2 separate regions of the Homo sapiens genome follow, and region 1 is linked to region 2. Evidence: fine-mapped expression QTL. Tissue or cell type: whole blood. Region 2 holds a variant in brackets; the other region holds the start of a gene. All regions are shown on one strand. Distances are from middle to middle. Region 1 holds the start of ARHGEF3 (Rho guanine nucleotide exchange factor 3). Region 2 overlaps ARHGEF3 (Rho guanine nucleotide exchange factor 3).

Region 1 (5,377 bases), 43 kb before region 2:
CTTTGATGGCAAATGTGTTCTAGTTGAGATAGTGGACTGTGAGGGCCAGAAGAGCAGGCAGAGAAAGAGGAATAAGAAGTGGCTCGGGTACTTGGGCACAGGTTCTTGGTGGCCAGACAAGCCCTGAGTGACGCATGTCACTGCCTCTGGCCCTGCCTTTGGCTGCATAGTTAATCAGGGGCTACTTGGAGATGAGGTTACTCTCACACCCCCACCAAGCTTGGCTAAGCTTTTGGAGCACTTGTGTGAGCTCCCCATCAGCACAGCTCAGGCTAAAAGGATAAAATTGTGTTCAGGAATACAAATAGGAAAAATCAGTGGTTCTGAGGTGCTCTTTCCTGCCCCATACCTCTTCTGAGACAGTTTTCTTCCTATTGCTTCAGGTTATCTATCGAGGGAAAAAAACTCAGGTGCTCTCTTCAATTTCAGTTGGAACCTCCACCCATTCAGGAGCTTCATTTACATGTGTGGTAATAACAGGCTGGTTACACAGGGCCCAATTCTTTCTGCCTCCAAAGGCAGTTTGTCTGCACTAGCTGGGTAGGAAAGTAAGTGGATTTAGTGTGAGGGTGTGGATTTGATACCTGGGATGAAGAGCTATGTATTATGAGGTGTCCTGCCTGAGAAGTAGGAACTGCTGGGTTCTGACCTCAGCTAGAAGCAAAGAGCACGCAAACAGGGACTGGATATCACCATTCCCACTATCCCCTGCATCCCCAGGAAGTAAAAACAAAAGATAGTGTCTCCATAGATCACCACCTGATGTAGTCATGACTTTCCACATGAGGAGGAAAAAGATTCAACAGTACAGTCTACAAAATAACTTTTGAGAGATGATCATTTTAGGGCTGGGCATGGTGGCTTACACCTGTAATCCCAGCACTTTGGGTGGTTGAGGCAGGTGGATTGCTTGAGCTCAGGGGTTGGAGACCAGCCTGGGCAAACATGGCAAAACCCTGTCTCTACAAAAATACAAAAATTAGCTGGGCACACTGGTCCAGGCCTGTAGTCCCAGCTACTTGGGAGGCTGAGGTGGAAAGATCACTTGAGCCCAGGAGGAGAAGGTTGCAGTGAGCCAAGATCATGCCACTACACTCCAGCCTGGGCAACAAAGCAAGACCCTATCTCAAAAAAAAAAAAAAGAAAGAAAATATGATAATTATAATATTTTAAAAAACTATAATTTCCCAAGAAGTGCCATGAATGAAGGTATTTTTCTTTTTTTCTCTTGAGACAGGGTCTCACTCTGTCACCAGGCTAGAGTGCAGTGGTGCAACCATAGCTCACCACAGCCTTGAACTCTTGGGCTCAGGAATCCTCCCACCTCAACCTCGGGATTAGCTGAGACTACAGGCATGCACTACCATACCTGGCTAATTTTTAAATTTTTTTGTAGAGGCAGGGTCTTGCTATGTTGCTTAGGCTGGTCTTGAACTGTTGGCCTCAAGCCACACTGCTGCCTTGGCCTTCCAAAGTGTTGGGATTACAGGTGTGAGCCACTCTACCTAGCCATCTTTTCTTTTTTCTTTTCTTTTCTTTTCTTTTTCCTTTCTTCCTTCCTCTATTTCTTTCTTTTTTTCTTTTCTTTTTTATTTTTTCTCAGGGTCTCTGTCACCCAGGCTGGAGTGCAGTGGTATGATCTTGGCTCACTGCAACTTCTGCCTCCCAGGCTCAAGTGATCCTCCCACCTCAGCCTCTGGAGTAGTTGGGATTACAGGTGTGCACCACCATCCCTGGCTAATTTTTTGTATTTTTTTTGTAGACACAGGGTTTCACTGCTGCCCAGGCTGTATTTTTCTTATAAAAAATTTTAAAACATGAGCTATAAGCTTAAGTCCCTTTTGTTCACTATCTTTAATTCTTTAAACCCAGGTGCCTCCCTTCAGCCACAGGGGAACTGGTAAAAGCTTGCTGTGGATTCTTGTAGACAGTGTTCAATGCTATTTACCCACAAATATGTCTTTATAGAAAATATATGATATTCTTTGGTAAACTTGTATTTTTTTTTAACACAAATGGTATTGTATTATGCTTAGTCTGCAATTATTTTTAAACTGAGTCTAATACATTGGAGATCTTTCCATGCCACACCCATAGACCCATCTCCTTTTTCACTGCTGCTAAGCGGTATTACACAGTGAAGAAAGTTTATTTAAGCACTCCCTATTGATGGATATATTACCATTGTTTCCAGTTATTTTTTATTTTTTACTGCCCCAGACAGGGCTGCTGCAAACAACCTTAAGATCAATCGCCTTCTTGGGCATTTATAATGTCATTGTTTCTCCAAAAAGGATCCAGAAAGGTGTGGTAGTGCCAGGTCATCCATGCACAGCTTTATACTTGAAGGACACTCTGTCAGATTGCCCTCGAGTGTCAGGCAGCCTCTGAATATGCTAGTCAAATTTAAAAGTTGGTGCAAAGTGGGAAAGGTCTCGAGGGAATTTTCCGGGGGTGGTGGAAATGTTTCGTATACCGACTGTGGAGGTGGTTATACGGGTGTTTACATTTGTCAGAACTCAACAAACGGTACTCTTAAAATGGGTGCATTTTGCCATTTGTAGATTATATTCCACTGACATTCATTTAAAAAACCAAACAAAAACAAAACAAAACAAAAAAAACGTGCAGTGGCCTGGGAACAGGGTAAGAGAGAACACCACCCCTTTCTAATGTGGGCTTTTAAAACGCTCGCTTTTCCCCCCAGGCTCCTTCCTGCCTCCAGGTGTCACTACAGCCTCCTTTCTCCCCGTTGCCCGGTTTCGCCCCAGCCTCCTTTCTACCAGCAGCCTTTCACCCGGAGAGTGCCAAAGAGCCCGAAAGGAGCTATCATGGGGTCTGCCTGCCCCGCAATCGCGGCCCACGCTCTGCGGGGGCGCCCGGAGTCGAATACCAGCGGGGAGAGAGAGGTCCCTCTCCACCCGCGGGACCGCCCCACGCCCCTCGCAGCCCCAGGAGGTGTCCGCGCTGCGGCACGTGGGCCCTCCCGGCAGCGTGGGGCGGTGCCGAGCCGGCGGCCCGCCCCCTCCCCACCCATCAAGGCGTGGCTGGCACGGTCCCGCCCACTCGGCTCCGGAGCCCAGTCGAGTCCTGCCCGGCTAGAAGCCGGCTGTCGGTCTCCGTGTCGCCGCCGCCGCCCGGCATCGTGGAGCTGGGGCCCCCTTTTGCCTGGGAGTTTTGTAGTCGCCTAGGGTCAGCGGTGACATCCCAAAGGGCAGGCCCGGCAGCCGCCATGGTGGCCAAGGATTACCCCTTCTACCTCACGGTCAAGAGAGCGAACTGCAGCCTGGAGCTACCCCCGGCCAGCGGTCCGGCCAAGGACGCTGAGGTAGGGCCGCGCCCTGCACCTGGACCTCTATGGGTCATCTGCCTGTCTCGTCTGCCTCCATCTCCCATTCTCGGCGCCCGTCCAGTGTCACTGTCTCTGTTTCCATCTCTCACTCTCCGTGTGTGCCACTTTCTCTCTCTACATCTCTCCCACAGTCTTCTTTGTGTCTCCCCGTCGCCATCTCTCACCCTGTCTCCTTTTCTCTCGCTTTTTCTCTGTGGACCAAGCACTAGCTGCCTCCTCTCTCCCTGTCCCTCTACCTGCCGGTCTGGGAGCAACTGCCTCCTTGCCTTTGCAGGGCTCTCAGACTGTCCATCTTCTGTCTGGACTCTCAGAGGGACTTTCTCCTACTGTCAGCAAGCCCCAGTGTCAGGGAAGTGTCAGCAAGCCCCAGTGTCGCTACCCTTTAAGCGAGTTTTTTTTGCCTGGGTTGTGAGAGCAGAGGGACGTACCAGCCCTCTCACCTGTCAGACTTGGCCTTGCAGCCCTTTGGCAGCAAAAACAGGACACAGCGCCTCTGCCTATCACCTGTGGCCAGTGAGGGTCATTCAGCCGGGGGGCTGGGGCTAAATGAGTAAATTGGAGTGTCTCCCACATGGATCTTGAAAATGAATTAAAGTCCTTAGGGTCAATGGAAAGCTGCCTTGGAACATTGGAAACATTTCTCTTTCTGGGAACTTTCCTGTGCCTTGCGGGCGATGTGAAGGAGTGCTCCCAGGTTATGTTTAGTCTGCCTTTTCCTCTTGCGTGTTATTTCTCTGGCACATAGCTCACTGGCCTTAAAGGTTGGGTTCAGCTGGAGGAGAAAGCATCCCTCTCTTTGAGGGTCTTAGGGAATACAGTCGCTTTCGCTAGATTACAGCTTTGCTGTGGTCAAGCTGCGGTGGAACCCACAGGACCCAGCTAGTCATTGCCGCTCATGCGTGTATCTGGGAGCTTTCCACTCTCCCACACCTCACTCTGCGAACATCAAACATCACCACCACCACTGGGGAAAGGCTGAAGGCAGGTGTGCATCCGGCCTTGTCACAGCATTCTTGAGGTTCCACCCACTCGCCTTCCTTGGGTCTGCTCAGCTGTATGCACTTGGCTCACTGAATCATGTATATTCGGGAGCACACCATCAAAGATTCATTTCCTCTAGCAAGAGCTGCTCCAGGCTGACAGGACTCCAAGCAGTCTCTGGTTGTATTCAGCTTTCTATACGCTGAGCACAAACTAACTTCTCCCTCACTCAAACCCAACCCTACACTCCAGCTCAGTCGAATATTATCACAAAGAGTTTTTGTTGCCAGCAGCTGTGAAAGTGTGATGGCCCTAGTGGCATTTGCATAGAATTCAGGTTGGTCAGGCCTGGAATGGATATAATATTTTTTCAGTGGGAACTTCCTAATTTAATCAACATAGGAGCAGCGCAATTGGTGCCCACTCAAACTCCACTTGTAAGGAAGAAAGGCATAACCAATAAATTAATAAATTGAAGTGGGCCAAAGAAAAGAATAGTGAGGATAGCTGAGGACTCTAACCAGTCCCTTCCTACTATTACTTAGTCCTGTGTTTTTGAGTAGTTTAGCTAAAGGCTTAGGTAAAACTTGCCTGCTTAATTTCATTTTATTCTTATACATAGAATATAGATATGTCTATATATCACAAATATGAAACTTATCACATGTCAAATATTAATTTTCTTCATTGGTAGCTGGATCTAGACTATAAAATATGACTTATTTTCCTCGTATGGGGATATCCTGATGTGAGAAATAAGGAAGGGGTTGGAATAGTTTTGGAAATAGTTGGTAAATATTTTTCAGATATCACTATTGGGGTTTTTGTTTTTTAGTGTTTGATTTAAACACTAAATCAAGTATGCTTTATACACTTTGAGGCAGAGATATCTTTTAGCTTCATCGATGAGCATATCACTTCCTGATAATGGAAATTGGCAAAATTGGAAAAAGAAACCTAAGTGAGTTTAGTGGGTAGTTTTCTGGTTTCCTTATCAGCGCAAAAGGCAGCCAACCCTTGTAGGCCTAGCTTCTCCATAAGCAG
Region 2 (5,377 bases):
TCATTTGCTAGGCCAGATTCCCTCATGGAAACTCTTGCTTGTCCTGGAATATTTTTCACTCCGGTCCCAGCATCCCCACACCCAGGGAGATCTATGTATGTGCTTCTGTTTTTATGTGGTCCTGCCCAAGGCCAGGTCCCTCACTTTGAGGTGGGCCTCTTCTAGTTACCGTGGACTGGCGTTTCTCACCCCAGGAACATTTGGCAATGTCTGGAGGTGTTTTGGTTGTCATAACTGGGCTGGCTGTGCTGCTGGCATCTGGTGGTTAGAGGGCAAAGATGATGCGAAATATCCTACAATGCACAGGAGAGCCTCCCACAATAAAGAATCTCTAGTCCAAAATGTTGTGGTGGCCAGGTTGAGAAACTTTCTACAGGCCAAGAAGTAAACTACAGTTCATTTATTTGGGCACATGTACCCCGCTACACTATGAATCTTATCCTAGGGCAATTAGGGTAGGATATTGGTTAAATATTGGGGCAGGGAGGTTGGCCTGAAATAGACCAGACTTGGATTGTCATTCTGACAGTCACCTTACCACCGGGTTTTAAATAATAAAGCACCATTCATTAGCTGTGTGACCTTCAGCAAAGTGTCACCTTCTCTGAGCCTCAAGTTTCCTTGTCTGTAAAGGGGACAGAATCCTTACCTCTCAGATAAGCAGGGCTCTAAAGCTCCCCTCACAGTGCCCAGCACATAGCAAGCATAACATTTAATCATTAAGCAAAAGTTGTTGAGGTCTTACTATATCAGTTGCTGATGAATCCATCAGTGAATAGAGGAGGTAGATATGCCTGCCTTCAAGGAGTTTACCTTCTATTGGAAGGAAATAGACATGAAAGAAACAAACAAACCTATAAATACAGCACATGTTGAATATAAAAAAAAAAGAGAAGGGCAGAGGGTGTGTAGATGGACAGTGGCAGGGATGCTGATAGGGATGTGGCTGTTCTTCTCTCTAAAGAGGCATCCTCTTGGAGTTTTTTTCTTCTAGTAGTAGTTGCCTGTTCCTCCCTCAACTCTAGTTCTCTCATGTAGTTTTTCCCAGTGGTACTGATGATGGGTTCAGGGGTAGCTCATGGTATGTGGTCAGTGCTGTTATGAACACCTGCCCATCACCCATGTGCTGTCCCCAGACCATACCAGCTGCTGCCCCTTTTCCCCGGGGCCAGACGGCTGCTGACCACTCACTGGTTTGGTATTCTTTTATTATTATTCTTTTTTATAGAGACAGGGTCTTGCTACATTGCCCAGGCTGGTTTCAAACTCCTGGCCTCAGGTAATCCTCCCATCTCAGCCTGTCAAATTGCTAGACTTACAGGTGTCAGTAACCTCACCTGGACAAATGGTTGGCATTCTTTATTCCTCCCTTGGGATTCTTCTTTCAACATCCAGTCCCTTCTGAGTGGAGTAAGAAAAAATGTTTCTTTTAATCCAGCCTAATTAAAGGTGTAAATTTGAAATTTGATTGGTCAGATATCAGCCATTATTCCTAAAACTGAGCAAATGTATTCTCTCTCTTTCCTTAAGTAGATTTATATTCCTAGAAGGCAGGAGCTGGATCCCATCTCATTGAAACTTCCCCAAAATGCATGTCTTGCATGTAAACAGTAGATGCAGTCCCCAAAGTAGAAAGAGCTCAGGCTCTGTTGGAACCAGATCTGGTTTTGAATCTTAGCCTCCCTCAACCTCAGTTTCCTCCTCAGTAGAATGGGAATAAACCCCCAACTTGCAGGGTGGTTGTGAGAATCAGAGAGAATATATCAGAAGTGCTACGTGTAGGCAAAGCGCATAAAAGACCCTCTGTGATATCCCCCATAGTACCCTGAGCCCAGCAATCACTAGGGAAACGCAAAGCAAGAAATTCATAGTGGTAGAGCTCACCTAGTACAGCTTACTGCTCTCTTTTTTCCCATGCCGCAGCAGAAGACAATCTCCAACTCTCTGGGAAATTTTTAAATAAATTAATTAAAATATGCTCAATCTTACCTTCAAAACACAAAACTGAAATTAAGGTATAGTTGTTTAACCTATCAGATTGATAATAATACCTTGTTGATGAGAGTGTGAGCAAAGTGTACTATTATGTACCTATCTGAGGAATATAAAGTTGAATAGCCTATTTGGAGGTCAACTTAGTGGTACATCTCAAACATTAAAATGTTCATACTTCTTAGACCAAGGAATTCCACTTAAGGAATTCCTGCCTTTTAGAAGTATCAGCACAAATACACAAAGCATGTTCACTGAGGCACTTTTTGTAATAGCCAGACACTGGAAACAATTTTAATGTCCATCAGTTGTGGATTGATTAAATCAATAGGTCTGTCCAGACTATGGGAGGGATACTAATTCTGCAGCCATTAAAAAGAATACGTGAATTTGAGGTAATGGAAATGTTTTGGAACTAAATAGAGATGGTAGTTGTACAACCTTGTGAATATACTAAATAGCACTGAATTGTTCACTAAAAAATGGTTAATTGTAGGCTGGGCACAGTGGCTCATGCCTGTAATCCCAGCAGTTTGGGAGGCTGAGGCGGGAGGATCTCTTGAGACCAGAAGTTCAAGACCAACCTGGGCAACACAGCAAGACCCCATGTCTACTAAATCAAAAATACAAAAGTTAGCCAGGCACTTGCTTAGCGGTGGCACTCATCTATAATCTCAGCTACTCAAGAGATTGAGGTGGAAGCATCACTTGAGCCCATGAGTTTGAGGTTACAGTGAGATATGGTTGCACCACTGCACTCCAGTATGGGCAACAGAGCAAGACCCATCTCCAAAAAAACAACAACGAAAAAGTAATTGAGTTATGTAAATTTCACCTCAAGATACTGTCAAGTAGAAAGAGAAAACATTCTCGGCCAGGCGCGGAGGCTCACGCCTGTAATCCCAGCACTTCGGGAGGCCAAGGCAGGCGGATCACGAGGTCAGGAGATCGAGACCAACATGGTGAAACCCCATCTCTACTAAAAATACAAAAAAATTAGCTGGGCCTGGTGGCGGGCTCCTGTAGTCCCAGCTACTTGGGAGGCTGAGGCAGGAGAATGGTGTGAACCCAATAGGCAGAGCTTGCAGTGAGCCGAGATCGTGCCACTGCACTCCAGCCTGGGCGACAGAGCGAGACTCCATCTCAAAAAAAAAAAAAAAAAAAAA[T/AT]TCAGTTTTCTATGAATGTTAACAAATGCATGGAAAAAGTTTGGAAAGAGCTAGAACAAACTTAACAGTTGTTACTTCTAGGAGATAGACTTGGGGAAATGAGGGCATTTGTACTTAATTTTATATACTTTTGTAATGTATGAGAATTTAAAGTTAGCATACATTATTTTCAAACTGGTAGGGGGAGTTTAAAGTTAGCCAAGGACTGAAAATATAACAGGATAGGAGGTTGATTCTCTCAAGTGAAAGTGGAAACTTTCATTTTGAAGTTTTTGTGTGTGTTTCCTTTCTTTCTGCTCTTTAATTCTTAACTCAGCTGCCATCAGAACTGCAAACTGGGTTGAGCAAGTTACTTAATGACTCACTGCACTTGTTTTGACCTTTTAATGCTTGTGGCTAATTGATTCCGAGTGCTGGCGATCTGTGTGCATTTAGTTCCTGGTTACTGTTTACAAGGGACTGTTTTTAAGAGATCACAAGGATTTGTAAGATACCATTAGTGAACTGTGTATTTGGTGCAAGTACTTTCTTGACCTGCATAGGGCTGGTCCAGCCATCATGAGCTCATTAGTGAGCCCAGGAGCACCCCCACTACTTGTGCCAGCCTAAGGGGCTTGTGTTGCTACTTGCAGAGTGAGCGTCCTGCTTCCAGAAGGTTGTGGTAATACCCTGAAGCTCTTTGGAAGTTTCTTTTTACATTTTTCATTTATTCTTACATATATATCTATATATATTTTTTTAATTTAGAACTGAAATGAGGTCTTGCTACGTTGCCCAGAGTGGTCTCGAACTCCTCAGCTCAAGCCATCCGCCTGCCTTGGCTTCCCGAAGAACTGGGATTACAGACATGAGCCACCAAGCCCCGCCTCATTTTCTATTTTTTTTTTTTTCCTTTAGAGGGAGTCTTGCTCTGTCGCCCAGGCTGGAGTACAGTGGCGCAATCTCAGCTTACTACAATCTCCACTTCACGGGTTCAAGCAATTCTTCTGCCTCAGCTTCCCAAGTAGCTGGGATTACAGGCACCTACCATCACGTCCAGCTAATTTTTTTTGTATTTTTAATAAAGACAGGGTTTCACCATGTTGTTCAGGCTGGTCTTGAACTCCTGACCTCAGGTGATCCGCCCGCCTCAGCCTCCCAAAGTGCTGGGATTACAGGCGTGAGCCACCACGCCCGGCCATTTTAGACACTTTGGGAGGCCGAGGCGGGCGGATCACGAGGTCAGGAGATGGAGACCACCCTGGCTAACACAGTGAAACCCCGTCTTTTCTAAAAATACAAAAAATTAGCCGGGCGTGGTGGCAGGTGCCTGTAGTCCCAGCTACTTGGGAGGCTGAGGCAGGAGAATGGTGTGAACCCGGGAGGCGGAGCTTGCAGTGAGCTGAGACTGCGCCACTGCACACCAGCCTGGGCGACAGAGCAAGACTCCATCTCAAAACAAAAAAAAAAGGCTAAAAATATATAAAGGAGGACAGAAATCACTCATAATGTCAACATGAAACAACAATAGAATTTTGTGATGTTCCCTTTATATCTTTGCTCATGTGCATTTTTTGCATAACTATAAAATGTTCACATATAGATTTTTAATCCTGATTTTATTTTAGGCTACATAGAAGGGGTGTTTACATTTTAAATTATCTCTGAATTGTCTAGATAATATTCCATCCAGCAGGTAATTATAACTTTTTTTTTTTTCTGAGACGGAGTCTCACTCTTGTCGCCCAGACTGGAGTGCAGTGGCACGATCTTGGCTCACTGCAATCTCCGCCTCCTGGGTTCAAGCGATTCTCCTGCCTCAGCCTCCTGAGTAGCTGGGATTACAGGCACATGCCACCACGCCCCGGCTAATTTTTGTACTTTTAGTAGAGACGGGGTTTCACCATGTTGGCCAGGCTGGTGTCAAACTGCTGACCTCAGGTGACCCACCCACCTCGGCTTCCCAAAGTGCTGGGATTACAGGCGTGAGCCACTGTGCCCAGCCACTTACAACTTATTTAACAATGCCCTTATGTTGAATAGTTCCTTTTAAAATTTTTCTTTACTTTCTGGAATTTTATTGTTGAATCTCAAAATAACTGGGAACTACCTTAGAATGCCTTTGTGATGAAGGCTCATATGTCATAAGCAAATTCAATTCCTGACCTCAGGAAGTTTCTAGTTAAGAGCAGGTGACCAATAATTATAATCAAGTATGATCATTGCTATATCAGAAGTAT

The links.
Region 1: it holds the start of ARHGEF3, and the variant in region 2 is fine-mapped to the expression of ARHGEF3 in whole blood (INTERVAL, PIP 0.91).

The regions. Positions count from the first base shown.
Region 1 is chr3:56,799,654-56,805,030 of GRCh38, reverse strand. ARHGEF3 (Rho guanine nucleotide exchange factor 3) reads left to right here and starts at 3,082. Exons shown (of 10, transcript NM_019555.3): 1 at 3,082-3,328. The coding sequence starts at 3,233. RefSeq lists a silencer at 2,913-3,082.
Region 2 is chr3:56,756,956-56,762,332 of GRCh38, reverse strand. The region is part of intron 2 of ARHGEF3 (Rho guanine nucleotide exchange factor 3); the gene reads left to right. Among named protein-coding and RNA genes, the nearest start is that of ARHGEF3, 42 kb to the left of the region's middle. The variant T/AT (reference allele first, on the strand shown) is at 3,159.